Linked DNA regions of Homo sapiens: all the other regions are linked to region 2. Evidence: fine-mapped expression QTL. A gene starts in region 2. Each other region holds a variant in brackets. All regions are shown on one strand. Distances are between the middles of the regions.

Evidence for each region. PIP is the estimated chance that this variant, and not a neighbour inherited with it, causes the effect.
Region 1: its variant is the best candidate, but not a certain one, in a credible set for the expression of NELL1 in testis (GTEx, PIP 0.59).
Region 3: its variant is the best candidate, but not a certain one, in a credible set for the expression of NELL1 in unexposed skin (GTEx, PIP 0.64).
Region 4: its variant is the best candidate, but not a certain one, in a credible set for the expression of NELL1 in lung (TOPMed, PIP 0.77).

Annotation. Positions count from the first base shown.
Region 1 is chr11:21,280,975-21,289,362 of GRCh38, reverse strand. The region is part of intron 14 of NELL1 (neural EGFL like 1); the gene reads right to left. It also overlaps the pseudogene LOC100631258. Among named protein-coding and RNA genes, the nearest start is that of NELL1-AS1, 23 kb to the right of the region's middle. The variant T/G (reference allele first, on the strand shown) is at 4,796.
Region 2 is chr11:20,664,904-20,673,291 of GRCh38, reverse strand. It overlaps NELL1 (neural EGFL like 1), which reads right to left and starts at 3,706. Exons shown (of 20, transcript NM_006157.5): 1 at 3,514-3,706. The coding sequence starts at 3,568.
Region 3 is chr11:20,843,958-20,852,345 of GRCh38, reverse strand. It overlaps NELL1 (neural EGFL like 1), which reads right to left. Exons shown (of 20, transcript NM_006157.5): 4 at 4,593-4,763. Among named protein-coding and RNA genes, the nearest start is that of NELL1, 180 kb to the right of the region's middle. The variant T/C (reference allele first, on the strand shown) is at 4,338.
Region 4 is chr11:21,391,679-21,400,066 of GRCh38, reverse strand. The region is part of intron 15 of NELL1 (neural EGFL like 1); the gene reads right to left. Among named protein-coding and RNA genes, the nearest start is that of NELL1-AS1, 130 kb to the right of the region's middle. The variant G/A (reference allele first, on the strand shown) is at 4,233.

The DNA of each region.
Region 1 (8,388 bases), 620 kb before region 2:
ACCCTCCGTGGGCTGCACCCACTGTCTAATCAGTCCCAATGAGATGAGCCAGGTATTTTAGTTGGAAATGCAGAAATCACCCGCCTTCTGCATTGATCTTGCTGGGAGCCACACACTGGAGCTGTTTTTATTGGGCCATCTTGCCCAAGAGTTTTAAATACATTTTCATGGTGGTAGAGCATGTTTCCAAAAATGGTCACATCAATAGTGCTCCTCACCTATGTGCCCCTTTGTAATGTGACCCTGTCATTCTCTCATCAAGAGTCAGAATTTGTTCCCCCATTCTTATATCTGGTCTACCCTATTATTGCCTAATTTGATCAACAGAATATAGTAGAAAGGGCATTAAGCAACTTTCATGTCTGAGCCTTAAGAGGTCTACAGCCTTGGTCTTCACTTCTTAGAACACTCCTTCTTAGAACCCAGGTGCCATTGCTGTGAGGAGATCAAAATACCACATACCACATACGACAACCAGGTGGAGAAAAATGGAGGCCCCCTGACTGACAATCATTAGTAGCAACTGCCAGCCATGTGAATGAGGTGATTCTGGAGCTCTTAGCCATCCTACTGCTGATAAGAAGAACCCCCCGACTAATCTACATAATCATGACAAATAATTGCTGGTCATTCGAACTCACTAATGTTTGGATAGTTTGTTTTACAGCAATAGACAACCAAAACAATCTTACTTAATTTTGACAACAATCCCATGAAGGTACACATTTACCTTTATTGCACAGATAAGCAACTAGAAATCAGAGAGGTTAAGCAACTTATCCAATGTCACACTGCTCCTGTGTGGCAGAGTTGGGATGAATGTCAGTCAGCTATTAAATCTGAATGACTGAGTAATTTGTAAGACCAGTAACCAAAACAAATCTGTAAAGAGAAGGAGTAATTTAGAGAAAAATCAGACAACTTGTTGATGCCATTTTTTATAACACCAGAATTGTAAACAAAGCACAGTAAACTGATAAAGGCTAAGATGAAATTATCCAACAAATGCAGTACAGACATTTTCTCAGGAAACAGAGGCAGCCTGCCAACCAACTGTTTTACTGACTTGAGGGCTTTAGTCTTCTTTAGAGAGGAGTAATTTTGTAAGATAGTTTCATAGACTGAAGTCAGACAAGAGCATTTTGCAATAGATTAGCTCTTCCAGTTCCCTACTCCTAAGCCATTAGGAGTAAGCCCTTCCTTCCTTTCTTTCCTTCCCTTCCTTCCTTCCTTTCATTCCTTCCCTTCCTTCCTTCCTCTTTCCTTCCCTCTTTTTTCCTTCTCCCTTCCTTATTTCCTTCTTTCCTTCCTTCCCTTATTTTTTCTTTCTTTCCTTCCTTCTTTCCTTCCCTTATTTCTTTTCTTCCTTCCTTCTATTCTCTTCTTTTCTTTAGAGTGAGTATGAACTAAGAGCCTGTCCCTATCCTAGGTTCTGATGCTATAGTGATGAATGACTTCACTCCTATTGCCAAGGGATGCATTGTACAGTAAAGTTAACGAGGGATGGTGGGGATAAAACATGTAATCACAATCAGAGAAATAAATACTAGATAGTGTATATAGAGAGCTGTGGCAGGGGACACTGAGAGTTACCCCCTCAATCTCAGCAAAAAATGGGAAGAGGGGTAAAAAGATAAGACTCCCCAAAAAAGGTGATGATTAAGTTGAGTCCTGAAGCATGAGGAGAAATTCATCTAATGAAGAAGAAAGGAACCAAGACTGTATACAAAGGCCTGATCTAGAGAGAATAGATGGTCCTTTAACAATAAATTCTGTTATAGTCTTGTTGGAATGCCACATTGCATTGATATTGGAATGAGGGTGGGGGGACAGACATGGTGAACCTGAGGAAGGGAAAATGAGGCCAGAACATTAGATGGTTTTCATGCTATGCTCCACTGCCTTTCTTTTACAGAAAAAATGAAGCCTTTGAATAAAGGTTTTAAGTAAGAAAGGGACATGATCTCTTTGCCTGTCAGAAAGATCATGCTGGATGCATTGTGAAAATAGATTGAACAGGGCTAAACTACAGGCAAGACATCAGTTAGGAAGCTATACTTGCAGTAAGAGAAATTAGGAAGTTACCAATGATAAGAAAAGCTAATGAGGAAGAAGGTGTTGGTGAAAAAAAAGAGGGGTTGCCAGATTCAAGAAATAAAAAGGAGCTAGAATAAGGAGACTTGATGAATCAGCAGATATGATTTGCTTTTCTATTTAAAAGTTGGCCGCAAACCAAAAATCTATAATGAATTAATAAAATTCACTCAGTTCTATTCAGAATTATCTTTTAGAATGGTATATTCTGTGTAATAAGGAATATAATAATTTCTAAAATACACTAAGCACTTATAGGCACAACAACACAGGTTTTACGTGAATTTTCTCCGTCTTTCCAACAACCCTATAAGGCAGGTACAGTTATCACACTTTACAGATAAAAAAGTGTAGCGGTATCAACCATAACACTCATATTTTGGTTGATTCAACAAACATGTATTCCATGCATTATGTACCAGCCATTATGTTACAGACTACAAAGGACAAGGAAAGAAAACACGTGGAGCTTACCCTAGAGATGTTCATATCTAAGTGAGAGCATCTAACAGTGGAAATGAAAAATTTTACTATGGTGTACTAGGTGTCACTGCAGCAGTCTGGTCCAAGAATTGCAATGGGATTCTGAAAATGACCATCTTTAACAGATAGAGAAATTTTAACTGAAGTGTATCATAAACCCCCATTGCTAAATAGAAGCCAACAACTGGGCCACTGTCTTTTGTTAAGCTGATTGTGCCATAAATAAATCCTTGTCATCATAAAAAAGAGTGGTACGAGTGGATAGTATGGGTTAAAGTAAGATCAGTTAGCGTGGCATTGGAGGTGCAGGGGGCCATCTGGCTAAAATCCGCCCCTTGCTCCACTTGAAAAGAACATGCCTTTGGTGCACGTCTAGATCAGCCCAGAGGTGGGCACCATTTGGGCTAGTGGCAGCCCTGGACAGTGACATGTCTAATGGCCAGTAAAGTGACTATCAGGGTCATTTTATACATAGACTCTTTCCTGTTTGCCTTATTCTTCAAGAAAGACTTCTAGATAGGGTTTCAGGTAGTCACTTTCTTTTCAGACTAAATCCTCTCAAACTAGCTTTCAGTTGTCCAAATCCTGGCCCTGACTTTATGCCCAATTAGGAAAGGTTAGACCAAGGTAATATGATTAAGGCAGAGCCTGGTGGAAACTGTAAGAAACTTTCTATGGTCTAAGTGTCTTTAACTTGTGACCTATTAACCAGGCAGAGATCCAAAGGTAATAGGCGAGACACACATTTCCACAATGTAGAATTCATTATTTTTCTCTGTCTCATTTCTATCTACAGGCCTTTCCTACTGATAAAACTACTGTAAGTTTTTACAGTCATTGTGTTTTTAATTTCCTAATTAAGTAACAATTTCCAAGCACCAATAAAGTTATTTTAGTTTGTCTCCCAACTATAACTTTAAAAAATACTACAAATAAAATAGGATAAAGTGACAGTAAACATTTAGCTCAGTGCTTTTTGTTTTCTTTTGTTTTGTTTTATACACACATTCTTTCTTTGAAAGATTGAAAGTAAACCGTAAAAGACTGTGAAACACTGACCAAAGAGTTTACAATCGATAGTTCTCTGTTTCGCAAAATGTTGTGGGTCTAGTGCCTGTTAACTGGGGTTTTGACCTCTACACTCTTGAGTCCAGCTGGAAGAATTCAAGAATCCCCTTTCCAGAAGAGCTGCAGTGCCTAAAAATGTTCATGTGTGAAACAGAACACTGGAGAAAATTCCTAACGTAAAGGTCATAAATAAGACCATAGGAAAGATGGGCTATCTAGGAAGGAGTGGAAGCATTCTATGTCAGCTCTGCTGTATGTTGTCCTATTTATTAGAAAAGTTACAATGTATATTTTTTAGGCAAAGTTTATTGCACTAATTAACTCATTAACGACCTCTAGAGAGAAGCCAGGCTTCTCTGCAGGCTGGTTTGCTGAATGTTAATGACCAAGATAAAGAGAAAATCAGTGTGCCAAGCTCTGGGAAAGCCCCAGGACTCCACAAACAGCTCTGATTTATTCAGTATATAATATCGTAGAGAAGGGAGAATTGTGGACTAAAATAGATAAGAATGTCCTCAATTCATTTAGATAAAATTGTCCTCAATTTAAACAAAAAATTTTTATGGCATTTCAATTTAATGGGAAAAAAATCAGTTTTGGTTCACACAGGCCCCCACCCTGCCCTGCTTGTGAATTAAAGGATAAGCTGGTTTCTTGTGGAGTCTGCAGTAGCTAAGCTGGCTAGGGTTTTTAAAGCAGAAAGAGTGGAGGTAACAAGTAGGACAGGACAGACTTTGAGGGATAGCTTAGCCTCCAAGGCACAGAACAATTAATTGACATTTCAAATGTGGTCTATGATGTTTTGAATGATGTCCAATGTGGTACCCTGGCCTCCAAGGTCTGCAGTGTGGACACTTTTGTTGTCCAAGGATGCCAAGACTGCAGTATTAATGTGGGTGGCATAGGAGTGGAGTTTGAGGTAATCCAGCATGATACAAATTGCCAGCAGCATGGCGGTAGGGTTTGCCAGATTTGTATTGACTAAATTGTCACATTGCCTTGAAGCTGTCTCAAACACTGCATACATATAGACATAGTTGGCTCCAGGCACAAGGCCTGCCCCACCAATCAAACCTGTGCAGACACTGTTGATAACATTGCCATAAAGACTGAGCATTACCATGACATCAAACTGTTGGGGCTGGGATAC[T/G]CACTGCATTGTGGCATTCTCCACAATCATGTCTTCTAAGGTGAGCTGAGGATAGCGGGATGCCACCTCCCCCACAGCACTGGAGGAAGAGACCATCTCCCAGTTTCGTGATGTTGACCTTGTGCACAGCCATCACTTTTTTGCATCCCATCTTCTGGGCCAGCTGGAAGGCATATTCAGCAATGCACAAAGACTTGGCCTTAGTCATGATCTTTAGGCTCTCTGTCACTCCTTTCACACTCTCATGCTCCAGATTGCTATACTCACCCTCTGTGTTTTCCCAAACAACTAGGATGTCTACATCTTTGTGCCAGGTCTCCACGTTTGGCAAATTTTTTAAATGAATGACACTGGCATAGAGATCTAGGGTGGTATGCAACATGTTGTTGAAGGATTTGTATGATGGTGGCAGGGTGTCGTCAGTTTTAACGCTACTCTTCAAAGCCACACGGTTTCAATGAACTGCCATGATGGCATTATGAATTTCCTCTTCATGTGAGGCAGAGGTGGAGGTCACTGACATTCCCTCAAAGTCCACAGGCACACACACATGTCTGAACATAATCTTGACAGGCAGCATAAGTTCAGTCCCAGTGCCATCTCCAGGAATCATAGTCACTGTGTGCTGCCCACCACACTTCGCTGATGGAGGAATTGTGTGAGAAAAAGAGAAGCTTCTCAGGGGGATCTCACAGCCAAGTAAAATATCCCAGGAGTAGCCAAGAATGGTAGGTTGGAAAATTGCCTTCACAGAGCCACTGGCTACTGTCAGCATCTTCAATACCAAAATCATGAAGTTGAGATCTATTCAATTGTGTGAAAAGCTGTGCTCTTTCTCTGGCTTTGAACTAGCTTCCTTGGGTGGAATTCTGGACCCATGATTCTTGCTTGGGTCATAATTCTCTCTCCTTCCTTGTGTTCTATTTCACAGACATTCTACTTTGTGAGAGAGATAGCTAGACAGATGATGTAATGTGTTATATAGTAGAAAATACAACTATTTTGGATCTAGATAATAATTCACTAGACAAATTCAGTGTGTGAAACTCTGTATCACATGCTTTTAAAAACACAGACTTTATTTTTAGAGCAGTGTTAGGGTCACAGCGAAATTGAGTGGAGGGTACAAACATGTCCTGTTTTCTCTTGGTCCAAAATAAGCACAACCTCTTCCACTACCAAAATCCCACACGAGAGTGCTCAATTTGTTCTATCTTATTTTTTAATTTTTTAAAAAATATTTATTTTTAATTTTTGTGGGTACAATAGTGTGTGTATGTATTTATAGATTGCTATGAGACATTTCGATACAGGCATGCAATGCATAATAATCACATGAGGGTAAATGGGATATCCATCACCTCAAACATTTATCTTTTATATATAATCCAACTACACTCATTTAGTTATTTAAAAATGTACACAAATTATTATTGACTACAGTCACTCTGTTGTGCTAGTGAATACTAGGTCTTATTCATTCTTTCTAGTTTTTGTACCCATTAACCATCCCCACCTCCCCCACACTCCCCCACTATCCTTCCCAGCTTCTTTCACTATCCTTTACTTTCTATCTCCATGAGTCCAATTATTTGAATTTTTAGCTCCCACAAATAAGTAAGAACATACACAATTTGTCATTCTGTGCCTGGCTTATTTCACTTAACATAATGACCTCCAGTTCTATTCATGTTGTTGCAAATGATAGGATCTCATTCTTTTTTATGGCTGAATAGTACTCCATTGTGTATAAGTACCTCATTTTCTTTGTCTATTCATTTCTTTATGGACACTTACATTGCTTCAATATCTTGGCTATTGTGACTAGTGCTGAGACAAACATGAGAGTACACATATATTTTCTATGCACTGATTTCCTTTCTTTCAGGTATATACCTAGCAGTGGGATTGCTAGATGCTATGGTGGCTCTATTTTCAGTTTTCTGAGGAACTTCCAAACTGTTCTCCATAGTGGTCAGATTAATTTACATTCCCACCAACAGTGTTGGGTGTTCCCTTTTCTCTACACCCTTGCCGGCATCTTATTGCTGATCTTTTGCATATAAGCCTTTTTTTTTTTTTTTTTTTTGAGACAGAGTCTCACTGTGTTGCCCCTGCTGGAGTGCATGGTATGATGTCAGCTCACTACAACCTCCACCTCTCAAGCTCAAGCGATTCCCGTGCCTCAGCCTAAACGCTGTTTCTATTAAAACCACAAAAATTAGCCAGGTGTGGTGGTATATAAGTCATTTTAACTGGCCTGAGATTATATCTTATTGTAGTTTTGATTTGCATTTCTCTGATGATCAGTGATGAACACCTTTTCATATGCTTGTTTGCCATTTGTATGTCTTCTTTTGAGAAACGTCTATTCAGATCTTTTGCTCATTTTTAATTAGATTGTTAGATTTTTTTTTCCTATAGAGTTGTTTGAGATCCTTATATATTCTGGTTATTAATCTCTTGTCAGATAGATAGTTGGCAAAATATTTTCTCCCATCTGTAGGTTGTCTTTCACTTTGTGGACTATTTCCTTTGCTGTGAAGAAGCTTTTTAACTTAATGTGATCCCATTTGCCCACTTTTGCTTTTGTTGTCTATGCGTGTAAATTATTACACAAGAAGAATTTTTGCCCAGGCAAATATCCAGGAGACTTCCTCTGATGTTTTTGTGTAGTAGTTTCATAGTTTGAGGTCTTAGATTTAAGTCTAATCCATTTTTATTTATTTTTGTATATGACGAGAGATAGGCATCTCCTAGATGTAGCACCTTAATGGTCTTAGATGAGATCCGGAAGAATTATCTGGATTACCATGCAGAGACTCTTCTTCTCTTTCCTTACTTTCTCCCAAACAAATGGAGTCTCTCTCTCTCTCTGGATCTGGGGGTGGAGTGACACAAGTACCCCTGTGGCTACCACCACTGGAACTATGCTGGGTCAGTCCTTAAGCCATCAAAGCACTGGGCCTTGTCCAAGGTCTGCTGTAACCACTAACTGGCTACCCCCTAAGTTCACTCAAGGCCCTGGGTCTACAATCTGTGGATAGTGAAGCCAGCCAGGCTTGCATCCTTCTCTTCAGGGAAGCAAGTTCCTCCAGGCCCTGGTTGGGTACAGAGGTGCCATCCAGGAGCCAGGGACTGGAGTCAGAAACCTTAGAAGTCTACCTGGTATTCTATTGTATTGCAATTGAACTGGCACTCAAATCATAAGACACAGTCCCTCCAACCCTTCCCTCCCGTTTCCACAGGCAGAGGAGCCTCACCTCACAGCCACTATTACCATAAGCCTCTTTAGTCAGCAGGTGAAGGGTCTTTCTAAGACTGGGTCCTTACCTTCATGGCAGCAGGTTCCCTTCTGGCTCGGGGGGTGTCCAGAAATGATGTTCAGGAGCTGGGGCATGGCAAGGGGGCCTTATGACTCTGACTGTGACTGGTGCCTATCCTACTGTGACTGAGCTGGTATCCAAGATGGAAGACAAAGTCCTCCCCACTCTTCCCTCTCCTCAAGCAGAAGAAAGGGGTCTCCTTGGGAACTGTAAGCTGTGCAGCCTGGGGTTGGAGGAGGGACGGTGCAAGCACTCCCTTAGCTGGCC
Region 2 (8,388 bases):
CTCTATGCCTGTTCCAAGCTGGCCAGTATTTTCCATGATCCTTGGAGGCTGGGGGCTCATGTTCACAGTTCCATTATTCAATTCATAATTAATGATCCACCTGAGAGTTCCTTCCAAAAGAAAATCTCTTGGCCAGGCGCAGTGGCTCACACCTGTAATCTCAGCACTTTGGGAAGCCGAGGCGGGCAGATCACCTGAGGTCAGGAGTTCGAGACCAGCCTGACCAATATGAAGAAACTCCATCTCTACTAAAAATACAAAATTAGCTAGGCGTGGTGGTGCATGCCTGTAATCCCAGCTACTCGGGGGGGGGGGGGGGGGCTGAGGCAGGAGAATCACTTAAACCCAGGAGGCAGAGGTTGTGGTGAGCCGAGATCATGTCGCTGCACTCCAGCCTGGGCAACAAGAGCAAAACTCCATCTCAAAAAAAAAAAAAAAAATTCTCTCCTTTCCAGCAGGTGGCAGCAAAAGACATTCACTTGGTCAGTAGGGGCTTTGCAGGTGTAGGTACTCCCTTCACCCTCTGCCCTGGTGACCAAAACAAACTGGAAAGCAATGTGGGAATAATTATTGAGTTTTCAATTATTCACACTGCCAAAGCATTGGTGAAAACTCATAGAGATAGTGTGTTATTACTGCTATTATTGTAGCCTTCTAAATTTTCATTATTAGTGATGTACCTGAAAATCTCTGAATTATTTCTCAACCAGAAATAACAAGAACTGGAGAATGGCACCTCCCGTCTTGACTCCACTTTGCACTCTAAAACAAGTTCTCTGAACAAGGCAGATTTAAGCAGCTCCTCATGACACCTATCATTAGATCTTTTCATATGCAACTGTGTCTGCACTGCAGTCTTGCTTTAATTAAAATGTGCCTGATATCATCTACTCAGTTCCATTAAAAGCCGGTGATATCTGAGCAGCTCACTAAGTGAACCACATGTTTATTTCATCTAGGACTGTTAACAGCCCAGACAACAATTGTCCCACTTGACAAAGAAACTTTCAACGCAGCTGTTTGGATGCTGATAATCACAAGCCAGCCTTTGTTACCTAAGAAGAGGGTGGATGGATGATGTGGAAATGATTTCTGCACAGAATCAGAGGGCTGCCTCCAGAAAGCTACCGCTTATACCCTCTCAAGCTACAAGATACTTTAAGTGTACAAATTGAGAGGTAATTCCCCCGTCTCTCTGATTCTTCCGATAATGTGTGTAGAAGAAATATGCGGCCTCTAGTGTTCAAATAGTGCCAAGTGACATTGAGAACCCAAGCTCCCTAGGCAACAGCCACAACCAGTGGGTCAGATCCTTCCATGCTTCCCTGCCTTTGCTGAATCTGCTCCCTCTGCCAAGAATGCCTTCCCACTTTGTCCACCTGGAAAACTCCCTAGAAAGCCTTGAAGGTACATCTCTCAAATCCCTGACCACCACTCCTCCCTAGAATTAATTCAAACTGTCTCTCCTCCACATTTCCTTAATACAAACTTATACTCCTACCTCTCCACCACCCCCCCCATCAATCTGTAAAATTAAAATGCCTGCCAGTTTCTATCTAGATTCCCAGCTGAGCTTTAAGTTCCTAGAAGTCAAGGACTGTCATTTCCTCTTTGCATAAGAAATCCTGGCACCCAGCAAGACATCGTTTGTTGAATGAGTAAAGACATGAATGAATCTTCCCCTACAACGAAATTTTTACAAGATTTAAAGGGGATTGGAAGTGGAAAGAGGGAAAATACCTGTTCTTAAAGACCCCTTCCACAAGCAATGAACCCTGAAACACGTTCCATTCCGTGATAAGGGTACTTTGGCGACTTTTCAAAGGAGTAATGAGAACAAAGGATTTAGGCATATTCCGTAGTGATGTGCACTTAGGGATGTGAACTCACTAACGGGTTGCCCCCTCCCTACCTAGCTTCTTCCTGTCTGCGGTTCCTCTGTAAGATGTCCACGAGCACCAGACTCTCGCGCTCAGAGCCAGTAGCCCACGCTCTGCACTAGTCTTGCCTGTCCTGATCTTCCTGGGGTGCGCGCACTCCTTCAGCGTGTCCTGGTTTTAAAAGACTAACCCATCCGGATGGGCCTGAACTCAAGAAGCAACTATTCTAAGCTAGACTGAGCCTTGGCGTCTCCGCAGCCTGGGAAGCTCGGATAGAGGTAAGGAACGGAATGGGAGGTTTCTTTTGTCCCTTGAGAAATCCATATTCAACATTCTTAACCAGACGAAAGCCGCTGCCTGCTCAGTCCTGGGGAAGTGGGAAGGGCCCTCTGAAAGCTCCTAGACGCTAGATCTTCCAGCGGGCTAACTGCCAAAGAGGGGCGCCTGGGCGCAAGCGGAGGGAACTTTTGAGCCAACCAAGTGCAGACGCCCCTTCTTAGCCCTCTCCAGATGAACTTGCTCTTTGGCCTAGAGAGAAGGCCACGCCTCTAAAGAAGGAAATAAGGATGGTAAAGGGGGGAGAATAAAGGGAAAGGGAATGACCACACAGATTCTGGGGTGCAGCGCGTACGGAGGATGGCTGGGTAGGATTGCAAACCTCCGACACTCCCCCCAGTTGACAGGCCCTATTTTTGCCAATTTCCTACATCTCACCCCACCTCACCTCACCCCAGTCTCCCCGCATCTACTACTAGCTCTTTGAAGAAGGCGGCTGCAAGCCAGTCTCCGAACCCCAGGGGACTTTTGGGCAAGGGAGCCGGTGGAAGCAGAAGGAAGAAGATGCGCTGAGAGTCCTCACAACTGCGTCTCCGGAGGCAGAACGAAGTGGGGACTTCAGACAATCAAGCGTCATCCTTGCTCCCCCCTCCCCACACGGAACCCTGCGATTATGGCAAGAGAAAACTGGTTTGAGCTTGAGAAAATTTCCCCAGATTGTCTCCACTGCTCTATTTCCCTCAGATAATTGTTCGCCCAGCCCTTGGGAGCAAAGACAGGCGGAGGAGAATACTCCTGGAGTTCTCCTGGGTAGTCAGGAAGGCACAGGAGGAGATCGCGGGATCCCAGGGTTCTCCCGCAGCTCTCTGCCCTCGCCGCACCGCGCCCTCCCGGGCCCCGGCCGCGCCCGCCAGCCGGAAGCGCTCCCTCTGCGGGTGCGACTCCCGCAGCTACCCCTTCCCAGCCTGGCGGGGGTCGGCGAGAGTGGTTTCCACAGCACCTTACAAGTTCGGGAACTCGGGGCACGCGGGCCCGCCCTGCTGCGGGTTTCGACTCCCTGGGACGGAAAGCCGGTTACTAGCAGCAAGAGGGTGCGCCTACTCGGCCGCGCCCCTCACTCCTGCGCCCCTGAGGCCGGGTCCCCTGAGAAGGGGCACTCAACGGGGACATCTTCAAGCCCGTGAGTCCCTATTTTCACCCTGTCACTCCGAGCAGGGCAAAGAGATCCCAGGAACCGGTCCACGCTACCGCCGTTCCCCAGACCAGCGCAAAGCTCGGCTCCAGGTCTCCCCACGCCGCCGTGGTCTGTGGGCACCCCCATTTCCCGGATCCCTCTAACCGCCACAGTCATGCTTACCTGTCCTGGCAGTGCACACACAGAACCACACAACTAAAATCAAATCCATCGGCATCGCTCTCGAGGGTCCCCGCCTAGCAGGGGGCACCGAAGCTAGGTGGAAGCAAATGAGCCTGGATCCTGAGGCGCGCCTGGCTTGGAGCCGCCAAACTTGCTAGCGGGCGGCGGGGGAGGTGGCTCGGCAGCGCCGGGTGCTGCGCTCGCATATGCGCCCGGGAAGGCAGCCCCGGCCGCCCCGCCCCCAGCCCGCCCCCCACCGCTGGCGCGGCGGCGGCGGCGTGGGGCTCGGGGCCCGGCCCCCCGCTGCGGCTGCGTTCGTCTGGGAGCCCGGGCAGGAGCGCGGGGTTTGGCTACTGTGGCTTGTTGCGCTCCCCACTGGGGGCCGATTCCGTTCGCCTCCTTCGCCCGCAGAACTGCGAGGATCTGGACTGCAGGCGCCGCAGCCGCTATCACCCGGAGCACCGAAGTCGGAGTCCCAGGACCTGCGGCCGAAACGAGAGAGCGGGAGGCGCACGGCGCCCCCACGGCTTCACGCGCTCCAGCCCCTCCGAGCCGCAGTCGCCAATGTTGCCCTCTTTACTTCCGCACCGCGGTGGGGGCTGCCGAAGTTGCCACAGTTCATCCCCGCCGAGTCGAAAAGCCGCCGAGCCCTCGCGGGTGGGTATTTTTCCTCGGGGGAACCCAGACCGAGGCGGCGCCACCGAGCGCGCACGGACCCCCTCGGAAAACAATTACTCGGGATTCGCTCTGTCAACTGGGTGGGGAGGGACCTGAGGGGGATGATGGCTGAGTCCCTGCTCACCGCCTGTACCTTCTGTCTCCTCTCTCCTGTTGAACCCCTATGACTGAGTACTCTCTTTGTGGGTGCAGGAAGAGGGCGCTGAGGTGGGGGTGCAGAAAAGGGGTCCTCGAGGCGGAGCGAGCTGTGGTTGGGGTTTGGGAAGTCTATTTGCAAACCTTCTCATTCTGCAGGGCAGATGCTGCCACATAGGGGTAATTCCTAACCATCTTTTTTTCTTTCTTGCGTGATTTTCTTAATGGTATTATCAAAAGCCCACTCTTCTTTCATAGTCACATTTTGGCCCCATGTGCAATTCCTCCGGGACCTCCACCTTCTTTTCCCTCTCCCACCACAACATTCTCTGGAGAGAAAAGCTGGGCTGGGCTTTGTTTTCTACTTGCCGGCAAGAAGAGAATGGGTCCTCTCCCCTCTATGCGACCCTTTCAGGACCTGACCTTCCCTATGAAGATCCCCCAAATTTAAGACTTCTGTCCCACTTCCTATTTGTCCTACTAACACCTAGGAACGTTATTTATAACTGGATATGTAGAGTCATGAAATCTGAAATGACAGCCTCTGATTTATACCAAATGAACTCCACTTAGCTTGCTCAGTCTTCCCACTCTCTCTGAAGCCCCCGCTCCCCCTCACCAGCAGTACTCCTTTGATATTCACAACAGGGATCCCAGAGGAGTCCAAGGAAACCTCAGAACAGCCGTCCCTCGTTTCCTGGAAACCAATTCCAACGTTTCAGAATCCTCTTCACTAATAAGAACGTGCCCTTCTCACTTGCACCCACTTTCACTTCCTATATCCTTAACCCCTACACAACTTTGACCCCAGGAGCCCCAGTGAAGTTCACCAAATCAGCGCAGCTTATTAAGAGAGAAGGCTTTACTAGCATGCTGTTCTGGTCTCTGCCCTATTTTTCTGGATATTTCTGTGTGCAAGCCACTGTCCCATTTGGCCCTTTATGTTGTGGTCCTTTGGCAGATGAAAAAGAAAGTGAACAAGCAGGTAAATTCCAGCTCAAGAAGTCTACTGCACAATCCAGAAGTTGAGCTGAATGATTAAGAGGTAAACTGATGTCAGCTGACTCCAACTCAGATTCGGCTAAGACCCAAAGGAAATCTGTCTGCCTTGACTCTGTATTTTCACTAACAGAGTCCACGTGTTTTTCCTTCCACCCGGAGCGTGTTGCATTTAAAGCTAACATTAAAATCACACATCTTGAAGAGAATAGGATTTCCCAAGTCTTGTTGGGCCTTGTGGACAAGGACACCATACACCATGTTGTATTATAAGAGCCATTTCCTGTCTCTCCTCTGCAGTCTTTAAGTACACCTCAGCAGGAACAGCCTTGAGTTGCTTTGGACTGTTGTTTCCAAGGCCCTTTTATTGATTTCAGAAAGCCCAGAATCCTTAAAAGTACAGTGACCCCAGCAAGGGGAAAAGGTGGTCTGGGTAAGATCTTCAGAGCTCTCTATCTTTAAAGTCTCTGTGTAATTAGCTGGTCCTGTGGGATGGGACTTTTAGCTTGTTCCATTAAAAAATAAAGCAAGACATATGTTCTGTCATAGCTTTGCAGCATAACATCCATTAACAGTAACAAGAGTTAATCTCAACAAGGTCATAAATCTTTTCTAGATAACTAAGTACTGCAATCTCCTCCTATAAGTGCAACCCTTGAGTGGGGATTTTGAGTGTGTAGGTCTGTTAAGCTAAGGTGACCTTCATAGAATGGGCCCAGCAAGTTTCTCTAGTGACAATGAAGGGACACATGGCTATGTATGTACTTGGTGGTGGAATGTTACAGTGAGACCTGTGTTCGGTGGAAGCCACACTGAAACATCTTACCTGATGCCAGATCCCAAGTCCACCCTCCCCTTCAGGATGGCCTACCTCCATGGGTTCTTCAGGAGCCAGTAGTTGTCTTTGATTATCCCTCTGCCTCTTCTTCCTGACCTCTAAATGTTGGAGAGCCCCAGGACTCACTCCTCAACCCTTCCCTTCCCGCCACACTCCCTCCCTATTAAGCTCATCCCACCTCATGGATTTAAATATCTGTGCAGGGATGACTCTCAAATATGCATCTCTATCCCCAGCCTCTATTTTGAACCCCAGGCCTACATCTCTAACTACCTATTAGACATCTTGAATATAATATGGCCACATCATCAAAATTAAAAACATTTGCACTTCAAAGTACACCATCAATGAAGTAAAAAAAACAACCGATGGAAAAGTATCTTTGCAAGACATATCTGATTGGAACTTGTATCTACTAAAAAACTATTACAACTAGATAATACAAGACAATAAAAGGTCCAATTTGCAAATAGGCAAAAGATCTGAATAGATATTACTCCAAAGTATATATACAAGCGGCCAATAAAGACATGAGAAGATGTTCGACATCATTAGCCATCTGGGAAATGCAAGTCAAAACTACAGTGAGATATCACTTCACATCCACTAGGACGGCTAGAATAAAATAGATAATAAATGTTGGTGAGGATGTGGAGAAATTGGAACTCATATACTGCTAGTTAGAATGTAAAGTGTTCTTTAAACAGTTAAACATAGAGTTGCTGTACAGCAACTCTATCCCTAATATCCACACAAGGTAAATGAAAACATATGTCCATATACTAACTTGTACATAAATGTTTAGAGCATTATTCAAAATAGCCAAAAAGTAGGAACAACCTAAATGTCCATTGACAAATAAGTGGATAAATAAAATGTGGTATGCCTATATAATGGAATATTATTCAGCAATAAAAAGACATGAAGCATTGACACATACTACAACATTGACCTTGAAAACCTCACACTAAGTGAAAAAAAGCCTGTCACAAGGGACCATATATTATACAATTTCATTTCTATGAAAAGTCAGGAGGCAAATATATAGAGACAAAACATCTGATTAGTGGTTGTCTAGGGCTTGGGGCCAGGGAGGTAGGATTAGGGGGTAATGGCTCAAAAGTGTAGGGGCTATTTTTGAGGTAATGAAAAGGCTCTAAATTTGATTGTGGTGATGGATGTAAAACTCTCACATATATTCACAATATAGTAAAAACCATTGAATTGTATACTTTAAATGGGTGGATTGTATGGTATGTGAATTATATCTCAAGCTGTTTTTTAAAATACTTTAATGATCATGACAAAAAATTGTAATATGGCCAACTAAGGACTTTTGACTTTTCCCTTGTCTTAAATTTCCACTGCTGACTTCTACGGACATGGCATGAGCCTTCACCAAGTGCTCCAGCTACATAACCCAGGGTCATCCTTGACTTGCTTGCCCTTAGCCCCCACACACAAGGCATCAAGCCCTGTCAGTATACCTTAAAGAAAAATCCCCAGTCAAATTTCTCTTCTCACCAGGTCTCCTCCCACCTTCCTCCAACCCATCATTATCTCTCCCATAGCCTACAGCTATAGACTCTCAATGCTTCTCTCTGCCTCCATTCTTGCCCCGTATAATTCAGTCACCTCCACCTTCAGCAGTCATAGTCTGTGTTTTGTAACATGTATCATATCACACTCCCTTGCTCAAAACTCCTCCTGGAGTTTTCCATCATATTTTAGTAAAATCCAAACATCTTATATCACCCCTGCTTCTCCTCCCAGGTCCCTCTCTCCCCATTCTCCCCCTAACTCACTCCAGTGTTTCTTGTTCCTTAAACATTCCAAGTTCATACCATCCTCATGATCTTTGCACTTGCTGTCCCCTCTACCTGGAAGGTTCACTTTTCACTGACTCAAATCTCGTCTCAATGTCAGCTCTTTGAGGAGACCTTGCCTAAAGAAGCTTCTCACTTTACTCCCAACATTCTCTGCCTCCTTACCCTGCTTTATTTTTTAGAGTGCTTGTTATTGTCTAAAATAATATGATTTATATGTTTACTTATTCGTTCTGTCCCCCCCACACACACAATATAATGCAAGCTCCACAAGAATAGGAATTTTGTCTTTCTTGTTCACCAACGTATATTTCCACCTAGAACAGTGCCTAGCACATTTTAGGAGCTCATTAAATGTTGTTGAATGAATGAATCAATGCATGTTCTGCCAGGAAGCAG
Region 3 (8,388 bases), 180 kb before region 2:
TCAAGATCAGTTGTATGCAAAAATTGGATGTGCTCTATGGATAATAAATAGCATGTGTTAAAAGTAAAAGATAAGTATGTTTAGTCTAGTCTAGACTAATCACTTGTTAACTCTCTGTCAAGGTGACAATCGGGCTGCAGATGTGTGTGTATGTGCCATACACATTTGAACAAGTCTGAAAAAATAAGAGCTAAGTTGAAATGTGATAGACTGCACTTAAGAGCTGAATTTTTCCAGCAATGAGGCATAAGGAGGTTAACACAGGGTAGGGATGCCGGCATATTACAAAAAGTGCTGGCCAAAGGCTGGGTGAATTAAAAGCCATCCATCTCTTAGCTGCTGAGGAGCTCAGCTCCACTGTCACTTCAGGACCAAGATGCTGGGAGTTCACTGTTTCCAGTTCTTTCCACTGTTCAGCTGCCATTGCGAGTTATCAAATCAGCCTGCTTACAGGGCTCCTGTCTGCATCCAGGCTTCCTCTGATACCCAGGGACTAGGCCCAATCACTGTGAGGGGCTCTGGTGGTTTCAGAACGAAGTTAAAATGACTAAATGAATAAGCCAAGAACTTCCTGGTGGCAAGGACTCTTATTTCCTTGTATCCTACACAGCCTGGCAGAGATAGTGTACCCAATAAATAAATTTGATGGGCTGAATGAAAATTAAAAGTTACAAATAAAGAGAAGGAAATAAAATTCATTTTGTTGTGAAAGGGAAAGGTTGCTTATGCACTGAATCCCAGATGTTGGTGGATTCTGTCCTTTGAGTAATAGAGACAGGCTGTAAAGTGAGCTGAGAAGGGAGAGGGTGAATCTAAGGAAGGTTTCTTCAGGTTCCATTCCAGGCTTTGTTGCCAACTCTTAATATAAAAGGTAGCCGGAGAAAAACCCAAGGCAATGGAGATAATCAGTCTCCCCACCCAACTGAATGGTTCCTTCTATGTTTCTAGCTTGAGGTAATCTGCTATCCACACATCAGGAACTTCTAACTAAGCCCAGCTAAACAGCTGAAACAAGGAGAAAAGTGTCTCCGTAGCAAGCAGAAAGTGTTGAACTACCAACTAAAATAGCGTTTGCTTTTCTTGTGACAATTTGTACAATTAGGTCTGAAAAAGCTGTTCCTCAATTCTGACCTAAAAAAATAATGTGCGAAATCCTGCCACATTAATATTCCTCAGAGCAATGGAATTATCTGGGAAATTTCTTCTCGATTTTAGAGTTCTCATGGTCCCTGAACCTTCTGTAGTATCTCTCCCTTGGGAAGACTCCCTGGTGTGGTTGTGACCTTGTCTTTGGCAGTACATGTCATTAGCACACTATGGAGGTGACCTGGAGGGTGGGTTAGACTAAGGTTTTGGAGATAGTTTCAGACTCAAAGTTTGGGTTATATGCTTATTATATTATGTGATTGACACCTAGTTATTTATCTTGAGCTTTTCTATTTCCAAATATGCAAAATGCATCTAGTAAAACTGTCCCCATATGGTTATCCTAAGGAATACTATTACTAGAACATTACCTGGCCTATAGTAGAGGCTCAATAAATGTATATCCCTTCTCCAGCACCAAAGTAAAGGGTTCCATCAATTAGATTTCACATCTTTCCAAGCAGCTCCCAGGATTAGCAATATAAGACATGTGGCAGGGAAATATTAGAAAGGAACAAACTGCTCACATTGAATCTTGGCCTTCCCTCATGTACCAAATAAAGTGTCAATGGTCCCCACTATTGGGCTAAATAGCTTAGTAGTAGCTAGATGCAGACACTCATAGGTCAAACTTGGGTCCAAATCCTGGTGCTGCCATTTATTAGTAGCAGGGTTACAGACAAATATATAACCTCAGTTTCCTCATCTTAAAAAGAGGAAAAACTAATAGAATGAGTATGGAATAAGTTAATCTATGTAAAGTACTCAGCACTGTGCCTAGCACAATCAACATCAAATGTTATCTAACATCATCTCCTTTCATACTCTAATCAGCAGAACACTACTGGGTGAGAGGTTGAGAAAAACTCTAAGAGTAACAGGGATCAAAAAATAAGAATCACAAAGTAGTAATGGATAGCTGAAATTCACTCTCTGTGAGGGTGGCTGAGACTAAAAGTGATAGAACCAGCATCTTGATATATGGGACAGAGCTTCTGCTACTGTAAAGTTGGCAAGTTCTGGCTGGGAAGAAACTTGTGAAGAAGGTAAAGTTTGTTTCGTGCATTAGACACTACCCTCTCCTTAATCCTTTTCTCCTTCTTACCCTCCTTCAGGTAACTGGTCTTCCACGACTTCATTTATTTGTTGTAGCCCAGCCTCTCCACCAAATTCCTTCCCCTCTTTCTAAACCAGTGGTTTGGAAATGCCAGTCCATTCACCAAGGGTAGACTGCCCGCATGGAACCTATATGGAGGGCTTGTTAAAAATATTGCTTCTCAGGTTCCGCCCTCGGGGAATCTAATCCAGTAGGTCAGAGGCAAAGCCTGGTTATCCATTTTTTTAATATGTTCCCCAGGTAATTCTTAGGTATAGTCAGATTTTGGAACCATGTTTCTAGCCTTTTCCTACATGAAAATCAAAATTTACTTTTCTTATGACCAGTCTTTGGGTCCATTTTTTCTCCTGACCTACCTGAAAAATGTATTTGTGTTTAGAGTCTACGAATCATTAACTAGCAGCAACTTCATAAGTTTTCCCTCCAAGATCTTACATAAAGGACATGTTATGCCACAAGCCAAAGTATGAAAAATATTAAGAAAACAGAAGGAATATTTGGAATACCCTCAGTCAATTCTTTATAAATGGCAATGACTCTAAAGAATACTGTGAACTACAGATCTCCTATCCTCTTCTCACTCTCCTGGTAGAGAGGTCATGGTTTCCATGAAGGACATACAGAGTATGAAAGTTTGAAGGCAGGGTCAAAGAGCTGCCATTGATATGCAGAGTAAATAACAACAACCACCACAAATGTAGACTGAGCACTGAAGGCCAAGCACCACCTAAGAACTGCTCCAGAGAGAAGAATGTCAGGAAACAGAGTAAAACTCTTAGAAGGAAGAAACAAAAAACTGCATAGCAAGAAAACAGCAGTATCTCCAGGACTCTTAAGTTGGAAATTACGAAACTAGGGTTTTGTGGCCTCTTTCTGTCCTGTGGCTTAGAAGGACAAGCAGGGCTCTTCCTCTGCAATCCCATTTAGACAGCATGTGGGTGGTAGGTCACAGTGGGTCATAGGAGTGTTGCCGGACAGGCCACTTTAATTCTAGAGAATTGAAGGGGGCAATGAGCTCTTGAAAGTGAAAATGGATATAGCAGCTAAGCATTGGCTTTATCCAGGCTGCCCAGCCCCAGTCTGCAGTGTACAAAGGAGCTAGTGGTTTCTATGGAAACTCTGTCCAGACATATTTATTATATCTGGTGGAAACCACAATTCTTCAGAAGTCTAAAAAGCACCTTAAATAGGTCATATCAAAATGGACCAAGACTCACCTCAAGATGGCAAACCTTCCCTTGAGCCTGACAACAGTTCCCTGCCCTTCCAACTCTTCTAAAAGAGACTGCAGAGCTAGAGTGGCAGGCATATTCAAGCATCTCCTCATGAGAAATGCGGTCTGAAGCTGACTGACCTTGGAATATCTCTCCTCTTGATGGTTTTTGGAAGGGAGGCTATCCCCAATATGCCTGTTCTTTATCCTGGGTTCAAGGGAGCAAGCCTTGTGTGGCTGAAAAGTCATTTTAACTTTGATGGCATCATTAATGAGAATCAACAATGCATGGGCACTGCTCAGAATGCAAAAAAAAACTCTGTAATTGGACTCGGGTCACTATCCATAAGGATCTTCAGTGGGTTATGGAGAGATAAAAACTTTCCCCTTGAACACCATTATCCAGCTGTCCAGCCATAAATGATCCAATAGAAACCAATGGACTCCCTCATTCTTCAATTTTCATTAAACCTGGCTCCAGTGACAGACAAGGGAGACAACATTTCCATCCCACCCCAACCCAAAACCTCCTGTGAAACCCCCTGGTCCCACCATCCCCTGACAAGCTGGAAGGCTCATTCCTCTGGAGAAAATACCTGGCATCAATTCCAAAAGGCTCAGAGAACAGCCTCTTTAAGAAGCCTCCATTTGGAAAAGATATTTAAGCAAAGGTGAGCTTGATGAAGTGAAATAGAATTAGCTGCTTCAGTGGCACAGGCTTCTCAGATTCATTCCAGGGTAGACAAGCTTATTCGCTTCCCAGTGGAACGAACTCAACAACAATACATCACCGTTAACTGTGATCACAGCTCCATGGAATTCCAGCCAGTGCCTGGAGCACACTGAGGTGCACTTACTATT[T/C]CCCAATCTGCAATCAACCTTTTGTACATTTGCTCCTAATCACGGGATACAGTTTCATCTTAATGAACTGTTTTCTTATCATATTACAGTTGGTCATTTCAGCATGCCTAAGGTCCCATTTGGTAGGTTAAATTACAATTAGGGTCCCTTGGTGTTTGTTTCCTGGCAAGTCTTGAAGGAATTTGATATTTTTTCCCCTTTTCCATTGCTTGATTTCAAGGGCAGAATCAGCAACACTCAAAGACAAAGAAATACCTGTTACAGTCGACATGGAGCAGGAGATGAGAGGCGCTAACTGACAGTGCAACCTTGTGCCATTGTCCATCTGCCATGCGGTAAGGAAGTGCCTCTGTCCTTGGCTTCCCATTGTGTATGTAGTGATACCGAATCTCATCCCTCAGGCCACTGCTCTCCAGTTCAAAATAGCTGTATGTAAAGGAACAAACATTTGTTTTATTTTAGTTCTGGATATCACAGCCATCATCAATCCCTCAACCCCTTACTACCAGGTCTCTCACAATCTAAAATTAGCTAAACATGGCACAAAGAGCCAAGACCTCAAGTCAATTCACTGTAGGACACCCAATGAATCTATTGTCTGAGAACCCTCGTGGCAACATCTTGAGCCTCTGAAACAGAGATCAATTGGTCCACCATGAGGTAACAAGCCACAGCTAATTAGCAAAACTCAGTGCAGTGTTTCTTAAATACTTCAAAGTACAAATCAGAACCCTCATTCCATGAATGTCTAAAACAGGCCATTCATGTGGAATGGATCTATTGATGGTTATTTTCAGAACTATTATCTTTACCTTTTCAAGAATTAAAGGGAAATGGAAGTCATGTTGGACATCAGGGATTGAAATACATTGTCAGAATGAAAAGATTAGTCTTTTTTCTTCTCTGTAGACAAAAAGATATAATTGAATAACAATTCCTAGATAATGAGTAGGGGAGAAAAGGTTGAAGCTAGTCACATAGGAATTAGTATTTCAAATTATCAGAGAATGAAATATGCAATTAAGTTTTTTCTTTTCCAGGATTATGATCCTGTTTTTCAAACCCATAAGAAATTCTTAGCCTTACCACTGTGGTCTGCACTTCAGTCATAAAATGCTACAAGCAACTTTGGGACACTCCTCAGGCACACAACAGGGCTAGTACTTTCACAGGTGCCAAAACTATTTTGTTTCCTATGCCTCTCTTCTGAAATGTGTCATTGTCATCAACGTTGGGCCTGATCTCACTGCCAGGGCTTGCACTAGGTATTTCACATATACTAATTTATCACTCAAAAAACCTGAGACTGGTATTATCTTTTTTAAAAAACTTAAAAACTGAGATTAAGGATTAAACATACCCAAACCAGACTTAAACTTAGATCTAAATTTGACAGTGTATGCACTTTCTGCCAGTTTGTTGCCCATCCCAGAGGCATGATGACAAAGTGGTGAGGATAGCCTCACCAGGCACTAACTCCAACAACTCATTCATATGGTCAACTCCAGAGCGATTAGCCTAGACAGGTAACTAGGCTTAACCCCTAGATTTGGAAGGGCCTGCTGCTTCTATTCTAATCCACTGAGCTGGCTAACCCCACAAGCCAAAGGGTATTTAATCTAAAAGACAAAATGCATCTTCTATGAGGAATGAAATGAATATATCAGGAAACTCAGCGTCTATTGTGCCTGAATCCCAAAAGTCATGCCAAAGAACAAATACATATTTCTTGCTCATCTTTCACAGATCTTTCCAAAGTAAACAGTGAAGGGCAAGCAGAGAGTCAAGACCAGCCTCTGACCCACCTCATTTGCACCAGTACAAAGAATCATGCCCAAGGTCATAAACTAAAAGAGGTTATTTATACCATAGCAGCCAGCTTCTAGGCCCAGGTTCATACTTATTAGTAATAATTTATGTAATACATACTTTATAAGACTGCACAAAAGGAAATGCTTTAACAAAGAAGACATTTATTTTAAGGGAATTCTCCAGTTTCTTCTAAGTTGTTAGAACACTGAAGAATCAAACAATCGGAGAACTTAGAGGTCAAGAAGATGTTACAGACTATTGGCCATTCATTAATTCATTCAATATGTCTTTACTGAACACATAATGAAAAACTAAAAAGGGGTTTAAAATATATATCCCATGTCTGAAGGTGCTTTGTGAACTAGTGAAGAAGGAAGTAAAATATGTCCCTCCCCACGGCCCCCCCAAAAAAAGGGTGAAAAATGGCCTAAAAGGAACAAATGAGGAGGCAAGAAAAGTCATTTAATGAATGATTGTCATGTGCCAGGAATATGGCAAGTGCTTTCATAGACATCATCTTTTTAATTTCTTTAAGGTAGATTTCATTATCCCTATTTTATAGATGATCAAAGATATTAAGTATCTTGCCCAAGACCATTTAGCACCTGTATAGAAATGCACCACGAGCTTATATTTGAGATCCTACCAGGATTCACACATCATGAGAAATCTCTCAATTACTTTACTTTGACCAATAAGCAATTACTTGGGGAAGGGACATGACCTTGAAAGGGCTTCAATCAATGACAATTAGAAATACTCACAGAAGTCACCTGCTGGAATCATTAAAGAGGGAGGCAAATACATTTAACCAGATTTCATCATTATTCTTGGGGTTGTGGCCTCATTGAGCAAGTGTTCAATGTATTATAAACAGATCTCTTAAAGATCACTTTATAAAGCACTGGAGTCAGTGATTACATTGGGGTAATCACAAATATATAGCTAGGAGAAAAGAAGTCTGTCCTAATGTCAGGCAAATGATACTTTTATCTTAGACTAAAGTTTCTGGCCACATCCTGCACATATTCAAAAAGTGCTGCATCTCATGCAACTTGGATGAAAATCAAGATGATATATTTTTGAAAACACATGTCAGATAACTGCTGAAGCAGCCTTAGCAATAATAAAAACACTGGATGGCTAAGTGACATCTGGATAAAATTCTTTCATGAGGGCTAGGAGGAAAATAAGGCAATATTTCCAGGCAGTAATGCTCTACAAATAAAGATGTGAGGCAACTCTGAGCAGAAAGTCATTTGGCCTGATGGGATTTGGCTGTAGCCTGGAGGGAAGACTCATGTTTTCTAGTAGAACCTTGTGACTCAGGGTGGTCTGTAGAACACCAATAGCAGCATCACCTGTGGAAATTCAGATTATTGGGATAACCCCAAGGTCTACTGCAGCAGAATCTGTATTCCAACAAAACTCCCAGATGATTCATGTTCTATGTTTACATCTGTGTTTAAGAAGCACTATAGTAGTATGCCAGGTGTTGCCTTACTTCCTGGCCAGCTGGTCTTGATGAAGGGAGCAGAAGTCTGACGCTACGAGCAAGTGAATAGGAGCCACGTGGCGCTGCCAGGTAGAAGGAGGACACTGGAAGTGACAGTAGGCTGATCTAGTGAGCAATCTACCCCTCACCAGTCCTCATTCTTCAGGACTCAGGTGTATTGGGGTCTTTTCAAGAGTCTCTGGGGAGGGCAGCTGTATAAATGATAAAATTATAAGCCAGATTTTGTAAGCAAAAGATTTTGCAAGCCCTTAGCCTTGGACCTCAGCCAAGTGTGTTGTTCCAACAAACTGCCTTCGCTCCCAGAAAAGTCTGCTCATCCTGCAAATATCGGAAAACAGCAGTGATATTCCCTCTTCTGTTTCAAGCCAAGCTTCCCTGGCTCCTTCCTTTATACTCCCATCTCCATCTAAACTATGAGCCCCTCCTGGACAAGGATTCTGCCTTCTTCCTCTTTGCAGCCTTCCCCATGTTGGTCACCATGCGCTAGGCATGGTCAAATGAATCAATTTTCCACTTAAATACAGCATCCAGGAATAAAGGCACTTGTACAGATGTGGTCTAATGCAAAGTACAGTGACACTATCACCTGCTTTGCTCTGAGCTGTGCACAACTACGCCTACACTGACTTTCCCATCAACTAACACCCCAAGACCTTGAACACAAAATGTTATGAAGGCAAATCTTTTCCAACCTGTATTTACTTAGCTGAATTCTGTAAGCCC
Region 4 (8,388 bases), 730 kb before region 2:
GGTATACAATCATAGAGTAGTTCACCAATAATGCATAGTATACAGAAATAATCTTTTATATTTGCATACACATCCCATCTATAGATCCTAAACTAGTTAGTAATGCTACATTAAAGTAGCTAGGAGGAAAAATCGACTTTCCCAGGTCAGGGTGTCAGTAATGTTATTTTCTTGAGTTAACATCAGCGTTCTTATCAACTTCCATTATCAACATCATCATTATCTTCCATCAGCAGCATCGCCGTTATTTTCCATCATCGGTATCATAGCTTTCACAAATGAGAGATGTATTGCACAGTAAAAGACAGTAGAGTACAGGCTCTGCAGCTAGATTGCTTAAATTCAAGCCCTAGGTCTGCCGTATTCCACCCATATAAACTTGGGTTAAATTACTTAGTCTCTCTTTGTTTTAGTTCCCTTATCTGTAAAATGGAGAAATTAGTAATATATGCTTAAATCAGCAAACACATGTGAAAGCACTTAAATCTGCATCTGGTATATAATGTTCAATACATTTTGGCTATTATTTTTATTTATATTTTAAAAAATTATTTAGCAATGATTCCCTAACTTGACAGGTGAAGAAGCTAAGAACCAAACATGTTATGAAAGTTGCTTAATGATACACATTAATGTTGAAATAACAATTCAAAGGTGTTCCTGTGTCTGGTCCTAAATCTTATGCATTTCTTGGCTACTTAATTTAAGCTAACACATTGCAATACCTAAATAGCAACTGAAGCGATTGTCAACCACCGACACAACTTGACAAAATGCCTAGATACTAGTAATGAACCCAAACACCCAATTCATTGCTTCCTCCCTACTCATCAGTCACAAAGTTGAATCTACTTGTAGATATACAACTGACCTTAAATTGATATTTTATATTCCATTACCATATTCCATTACCACCCTTGTAATGCTTTATTTTCCTTGGCCCTTTGCAGCTAAACGTCAAGAGAAGTGTTTGGAGATACAGTGGGTTACATCTGCTGAGCTCGTCTAATATTTTTTTTTTCTTTCTTCAGAAGAGACATGGCTGTTCTTACCACCAAAAGACAAATCTGAATATTGTAACAACCATTCTGAGTACTGTCACTAACTGCCACTGAATAACTGGATTACCTGGGAATTGTTAGTTTCAATTAGTTCTATGAAAATCATTGACTGGCTTTAAATTCACTTAAAAGTGTAAAGAACTGGAAGCAAAGAGAAATAGGGAAATGGCCACATGAGGCAGGAATGGAATAGAAATAACCTTTTAAATCAGGAAGATATTAATATGAAGTAAAAACAAAAGTAGATTTTTAAGCATTATACAAAGGAACTTAAAATTCAATTCTGTTCAGAGGCCATTTACTGAGCATCTGCCAGACATTGTAAAGACCAGCTGATCATTGGTAGGAACAGAATCTCTGTTCTAATGAGATCTTGTGCTCCTTCTAACTGCCCTCCTCACTCAAACTCTCTGAGGTCTTATCTGGGCCCTTGCTTTTTTGCCTGGGAAGAGTCTACTTTGATCCTCCTCCTGACTTCATTCTTTCCAAACCTAATTTATGCTCCCTCTTGGATCTTTTTTCTCACCAAGACAAAAGTGTCTACTCCCATGGCTCCAGAAACTTTCTATAAAGCTGGACTCATGCACATTTATGAATCACCCAACAGAAGAGCTGACGGAGTGAATCACACAAGGTTTTCAGATTGCCAGAATAGGAGGAACAATACGTGTCATATTTTTTAATGAACATTTAAAGATACAGAGAGCCTCAGGGGACACACTTTGTACCAACGTTCAGAGAATGATGCTTGGAACTATGGTGCCCATCTATAAAGCCACCTATGGGCATGCCAGTGGAGGACACCACCCTCAGGTGAGTAAGCCAAAAAGTCCTTTATTTTCACTAGTATAATCTCGTTCATAAATTAAAAATGGTTTATGATTCATTAACAAAGTTAAAAAATACAGGTTGATTCTTGGTAATTGCAAATACATATTTTAAATTTATATAATATATAAATATACTATTTTTAATATGTAGATCTTAGTTCATTTAGCCTGATATAACAAAATATCGTAGACTAGGTAGCTTATTTCTCACAATTCTGGCGACAGAAGAGTCCAAGATCAAGGTTCAAGCAGATTCGGTATCTGGTGAGAGCTTTGTCTTCTCACTCTAACCTCACATGGTGGAAGGAAAAGAAGTCTCCCTTGGGCCTCTAATATAAGGGCAGTTGTCACAATTTCAAAGGTCTTTTTAGAAAGGCACTAATCATATCCAAAAGTGACCTATTCACTTCCCAGAGGCCTTATCTTCTAGTACTATCCCTTTGAGGGTGAAAATTTAAACACATACATTTTAGGGAAACATAAACATTCAAACCATATCAAGGTATAATTTTAAATGATTTAAAATGTGATAGAGCACACATGGCTATAAAACCTATTTGTGTAATTATAAAATATTTAATATAGATACATGTTTGTGATATAATTTATATGTGTTTTATATGACTTAAAATAATACAATATGTATTTTTCACTGACAAAAATTTAGAAGTGTACGTACACGGAAATACTAGGTGGAAGTAAATAGAGTAATATACATATTTCCTCTTTTAGTATAAAGACTGAGTAATTTTAATTTTCTTTTTTGCTTTTCCATATTTTCCCATTTTTTACAATAAAAATATACTACTTTTTAAATTAATTTTTTAAATGACAAAAATCAATGGAAGCTTTAAGAGGTACCAAAAAATTATGAATCTATTCATGCCTGATGCTCAGTCTTCACATGTTATATATTAATATGCTAATTATTTAAAGAACAATAAATCATTGATGTACTTTGCATGGCAATAAAAAGTTAGCATAGTCTTTACAGCTATATGATTCCTCGTGTGTCTTATAAAATGCTACAGCCCTGGAAAGAAGAGAACTTTTTGTAAAGAAAGTGATACATTAAAAACTTACTACAAACATAGTTAAGAAGAAACTTTTGACACATTATTTCATGATAGAAAGATGATAATGTCCTCAACTCTGCTACTATTTAATATTTTTCTCATATATACTCCTTAAAATCATCAGGGAAAAGATAGGAACTCATCCCTCTACATCTGATGTTAATACAAATAAGTACAATCCCACCTAGCTTTCAAACCAAATTAGTCAGCTTTACCACAGTGTTACGTACAGTCTCATGCTGCAATTTTTTTTTTATGGCATTCTCTCTGTCTGGAATGTCACTTCTCCAGTTTGAGTTAGATATGTCTAAATCATTCCTTAATGTTCCGTACACATGCCTTTCATTCATGACAATTTTCCTGATCCTTTCTCCAATCCTCAGAAACAGAAGCAATACTTTTTCTAAAACCCTACCAAAGATCTAAACCTCTCATACAGAGTTTATCACTTTTAAATCATGCATTAATAATTATTTATGTGCCTCTCTTATCTCCCCTAATGCTCCTAATATGCACTTGTTTTAAATTATCTTTGTACTTGGCAAGTACTCAGAAACCATTGACGTGACAAACGAATACATGTGGGTTCTGCAATTCATAAATGGCCCTGTGGCCAGATCTTGTATTTCCTTAGTCCTTCCTTTATCAATCTTCTGTCTTGCTGAGATAAAACCTGTGTCTGCTCTTGTGTCTAGCATTCTGAAACCATTTGTTATTCACTAAATTAACCATAGATTCTTTTATATTTTTTGCCACGAGTTTCCTGAGCTTCAACATATTATTTTATATGTGAATGAATTAAGAAATCATATAAATGTGGGTGAATTCAGTTGCTGGCACTGGAAAATTAGAAAATGCTTGCCTTCAAAGCTCCTGTCCTACGAGATTAGTGCCCTGTAGATTTTTTACTTTAGGAGAAAGGTAACAATGTAAGTGATGAGCAAGTTCACAGGGTATGGTTTACTCAATTATTGATGCTTTGATGACAAGGCATTGGGGCAAAAATTCATTTATTTGATGAAGGAAGTTCCATTGCCAGGTATATAGAAGTGAAAACTGCCTCAGCCAGAAGTTGCAACCACTTGCTACTGGAATTGAAGAAGGTATTGACATTTTAAGTCTGCATGAATTGACTTGGTCTCTCTAGGTTACATGTCATCCCAGCTAATGTTGATCTTTTTTTGTTTTTTTGTTTGTTTTATTTTTCTAATCAATAAATTCTCACACTTGGTTGATTTTTTTTGGATTGATGTTGCTTTTTTGTT[G/A]TTTTTTTCAGGCTCCATCTTTGAGACACAATCGAGGAGTTTTTTTCAGAGAGGCCAATGTAATTTCCACTGATGTCAAAAAGTAGAATTATGCTTTTAATATTTAATGTTTCTCAAGGTTCTACACTCTGTGGCATAACTTGTGTTATTTCCTGTATACTAGTAAATAATAGAGAAATTACTATTACTAGAATAATAGAAGCGATTCCACTGTATCATGAAGAAATTTCTTTATGATCACCAATGCCATTTTAGTGGGTGAAGTGAGCCTTGGAAACTGAATCATTTAAACAGAAGTTAGAAATATTTCTTAAGTCTTTTGCCCCAGGGACCAAAACAGGACTTTCTTTCCATGTGTTTTATTTGGCCAAATATAGATGTAAAAGTTAGAAGAAACTTGTTATGAGTTCTCTAAAATCATTTCATAATCTGCTTGATCTCTCCCAGAAGGGATACTTGACTTTCCTAAATGTGATTAAGTTTCAGTTCAAACCACCTCACCTTATTACAAACACAGAATTCTTCTTAACTCAGGATCTCATTTGGAGAAGCTTGAGAAATTCTGACTAGTTTCAAAGAGAGGGCAGATATGGTGAGGCTAAAGCTGTCAGTCACCCCAGGCAGCTCTTCTCAGTATTAATCTTCTAGATTTCTCCTTCCTAACTTGTTGCTTTCCAATACAGCTGTCCTTTTTAATCATTTTTCTATTTCTTAATGGTTTTCTGTACACTTTTCATAGGTAATTTGTCCATGCTAGCTATTAACAAATAGAACTGTGAAATTTACTTTCAGTCTCTCAAATCCATTTAATATCCCTTGTATATACCTCTCCAAGATATCCTCATCAATCTAAACAATCACATACTATCTGAGTCCCACTACAATTGGTAGCCTATTAACCTACATATAAGAAACTAGTGATTCTGGCTCCTTCTGGGTAGGAGAACTTGTAGCTCGTGGACAAATATAAAGATTTTCAATGTATATCCTTAACTAAGCTTATAGAATATCTGAATATTCTAGCATGCATAAGTGTTAACTCTTGAAGATGTTAATATTTAAATTTTAAAACATGATGACTCAGGATTCTACCCTTAGTGACACTAGTAGAGACTGACATTATGAAATTATGTAATTTCAGCTATGTGTTTATTAGCTAATGTGTCTCCCTTCCAGAGACCCATCATCAATTAACCCAGATACAATACACACCTCCTTAAGATAATGTTTTTTTTGGAAACTGTAGACAACAAATTCTGTTCACATACTTTATATACAAGGACAATTCTGCTAATAAGAGCTGCATATAAAACATGCCTCTGGGTCCAGTCTGTCTTGGACAAGCCCCTAGAACTCTAAAGAATGGAACACACACACACACGGCCATATATATACACACATATATAGGGCTATATACATACATATATATGTATACATTTATGTGTATATATACCTTACATGAGTTCTGTATATATTATTTATGGTAATATTCTATGAGAGATACTATAACATAGCTGGGGAAAATAAACATATAAATCTTAGAAGCAGGCTCCCTGGGTTTGAATCCTACTGTCCTGTGCTTATTAGCACTTAAAGTTATGTAATTTTCTTACATTTTCTAGGTTTCAGGATTTTTTAAATAGCAAATTGGAGATAAGAATAATGTCTAATCCTATAGGATGAGTGTAAGAAGTAAAGGAGTTAACTTATGTGAAGTACTTGGAGCCATCCTGGCACAGGCAATATACTCAGTAAGTGATTGACCTTTTGCCTATGTGTGCCCTTGCGTATATCTGATTTCCGTTTCTAATAATTACCATTATAACTTCATCCAGTCTGCTCTACTGCCCCCAGGCCTTGGTAGAATTCTAACTACTGATCACATTTTCAAAATTAAAGAAGCTCTTCCAATACCCAGACCTGAGAGGACTTCCCATAGTCAAAGGTACTACCAGAAAAGGATATAAAAGTACCTGCCAATCTTCTCAACCACCTAGCACGTTAACACTAACCACCCATATTTAAAAGTGGAAGTCAACTATTTCATAGTCAGTCATCTTTCAAAAGTTCCCCTCATGCTCTACTGCTCTACCCATCATTTCCCAATCTTAATCTCAGGATATATTAGAGTATTTTCATGAGTTTCTAATCTATCTACTGTACTAGAAAATAAGCACATCTGAGAGTTAGAGCAATGCTTTCCTGTCTTTTTAACACTAGCCAAATGCAGGTCACTAAATCCCTGTTTTTTGACTATTAGGCACAGAACAAATACATTATAAAGTACATTTTATTTAAAAATAACTTTATTTCTATAGTCAGAAAGCTTTGCTCTTATCTAAATAAATTGCTCATCAGCCACAGAATTTTTTTTAGCTTTACTGTTTTCTATTCAGCGTTGTTTGCAGTTTAACTACTTTTTTCATTGAACAAAGTGTATTTAATTGTAATTACCCTTCCCAAATTTAATTTTGCTCTTCTGTGCCCACAGCTATCAAAGCTTTTGACCCCCTGGTCTTTCTACACTATTTCTCAGTTCTCCCTGGTATTTGTAACTTCCACAAAGGACCATCTGCAGATTTAATTAACTTGTTGAATTCTCTTTCCAGATCATTAATGAAGTTGTTAAATAAGACTGATCTCAGAGCTCATCTCTGTGGCATCTTGATGGTCCTTCAACCCCAATTATGCACTATATTTCCCTTTACCATTTCCCATTTCCCCTTATTTACATTCCATTGGTCGTATTTTAAACCATTGAAAGCTCACGTCCAAATCACTTGAAATTATATTTCACATAAAATTTCATGTGAAATAGCTCTTGCTTAAAAAAAAAAAAATTCTGACTTAACTATCTTTAGTGGAATGGCAGTTTATAGTCCCAATTTCCCATAACATCCTGCAAATTTAAAAGAATAATTCAAACATTTAATATCTTAAATAATGCTCTATTGGTCTTTGAAATTAGATAAATACTCTACTTCCAAAGGGGAAATGTCTATCTTTGCAGAAAGTCTCTGTTGATAAATTTTTGTAAAGAGTAAATGTCATGCAGTATAAAATAAAATTGTATTCATTCCATTAACCTTTTTTCTTTGAAAGTGGATGACATTTTATATCATATGACTATCTTTATGGTCAGTTATATTATTATTGTATATAAGTTATCACAATGACCAGGACTTCTTGTGACTTTTTATCTATGGGAAAGAAACAGTTTCAGAACTAAGGGGCTAGCTTTTGGTTAAAGATACTGGCTTAAATAATCATATTTACCCCTACTTTTCCCCTCAAACTCTAACGAGATAATACTAAAGACAAATTATAAAGGATATAAACCCTCTTGGGTAAAGCACACAGGAGAAATGATAAAAGTAACATAATTTTGGAATCTAGAAAAGAGGTGGATGAATGATAACTCACTTAGAAGACAGGAGAAAATGACTCATAGCCTGGAGTGGAGAAAGCCAAGAAGCAACTTATTGCATAGGACTCAGTAATTGGTGGCATCAAGTATCTCTGAAACTATGGGGAACAGTGAAGCTAAAATAGGAAAATTAATTGGAAGCTAGATTAAAAAGCAGTTAGATTCCTCAGAGCTGTTTCCTTACCCCAGCCAGGCTACTGCCTTTCTTTTGCCCCAGCAAACACTAGAGATTTAGTCTCAGCAGAGGGTACCACAAAGGTCAGAACATAGTTGAGAGCAGAAATACTATACTGAGACAGGGGTATTAATTAAAAATTTACAAACTGAATTTTACAATCTTTTGTCTTATTCTTCCGACCTGACTCTCAGAATGCTAGCAATCAAGTTTAATTGCTCCAGAAATTTAATTAATTTATAGGATTGATTTCTAGGAAACAGAAAGACTCTTCCCTACAAGATCTGAATGGTTCAAAAGAATGAACCTAAAATCATTGACATCAGCATCCCACATAGGTAAACTGAGCTTTAAATCAACTTTTCATAAGTGGCACTCTGAAAAATCAGCAGATAACCAAGGACTACTGAATGTTTAAGAAAAGGTGAAGATAAGGGAAAAATGCATGCACCTGTATGTAGTCCCAGTTTCTCCAGAGGTTGAGGTGAGAAGATCACGTGAGCCCGGCTGCAGTGAGCCATTACTGCATTACCGCACTCCAGACTGGGTAGGGT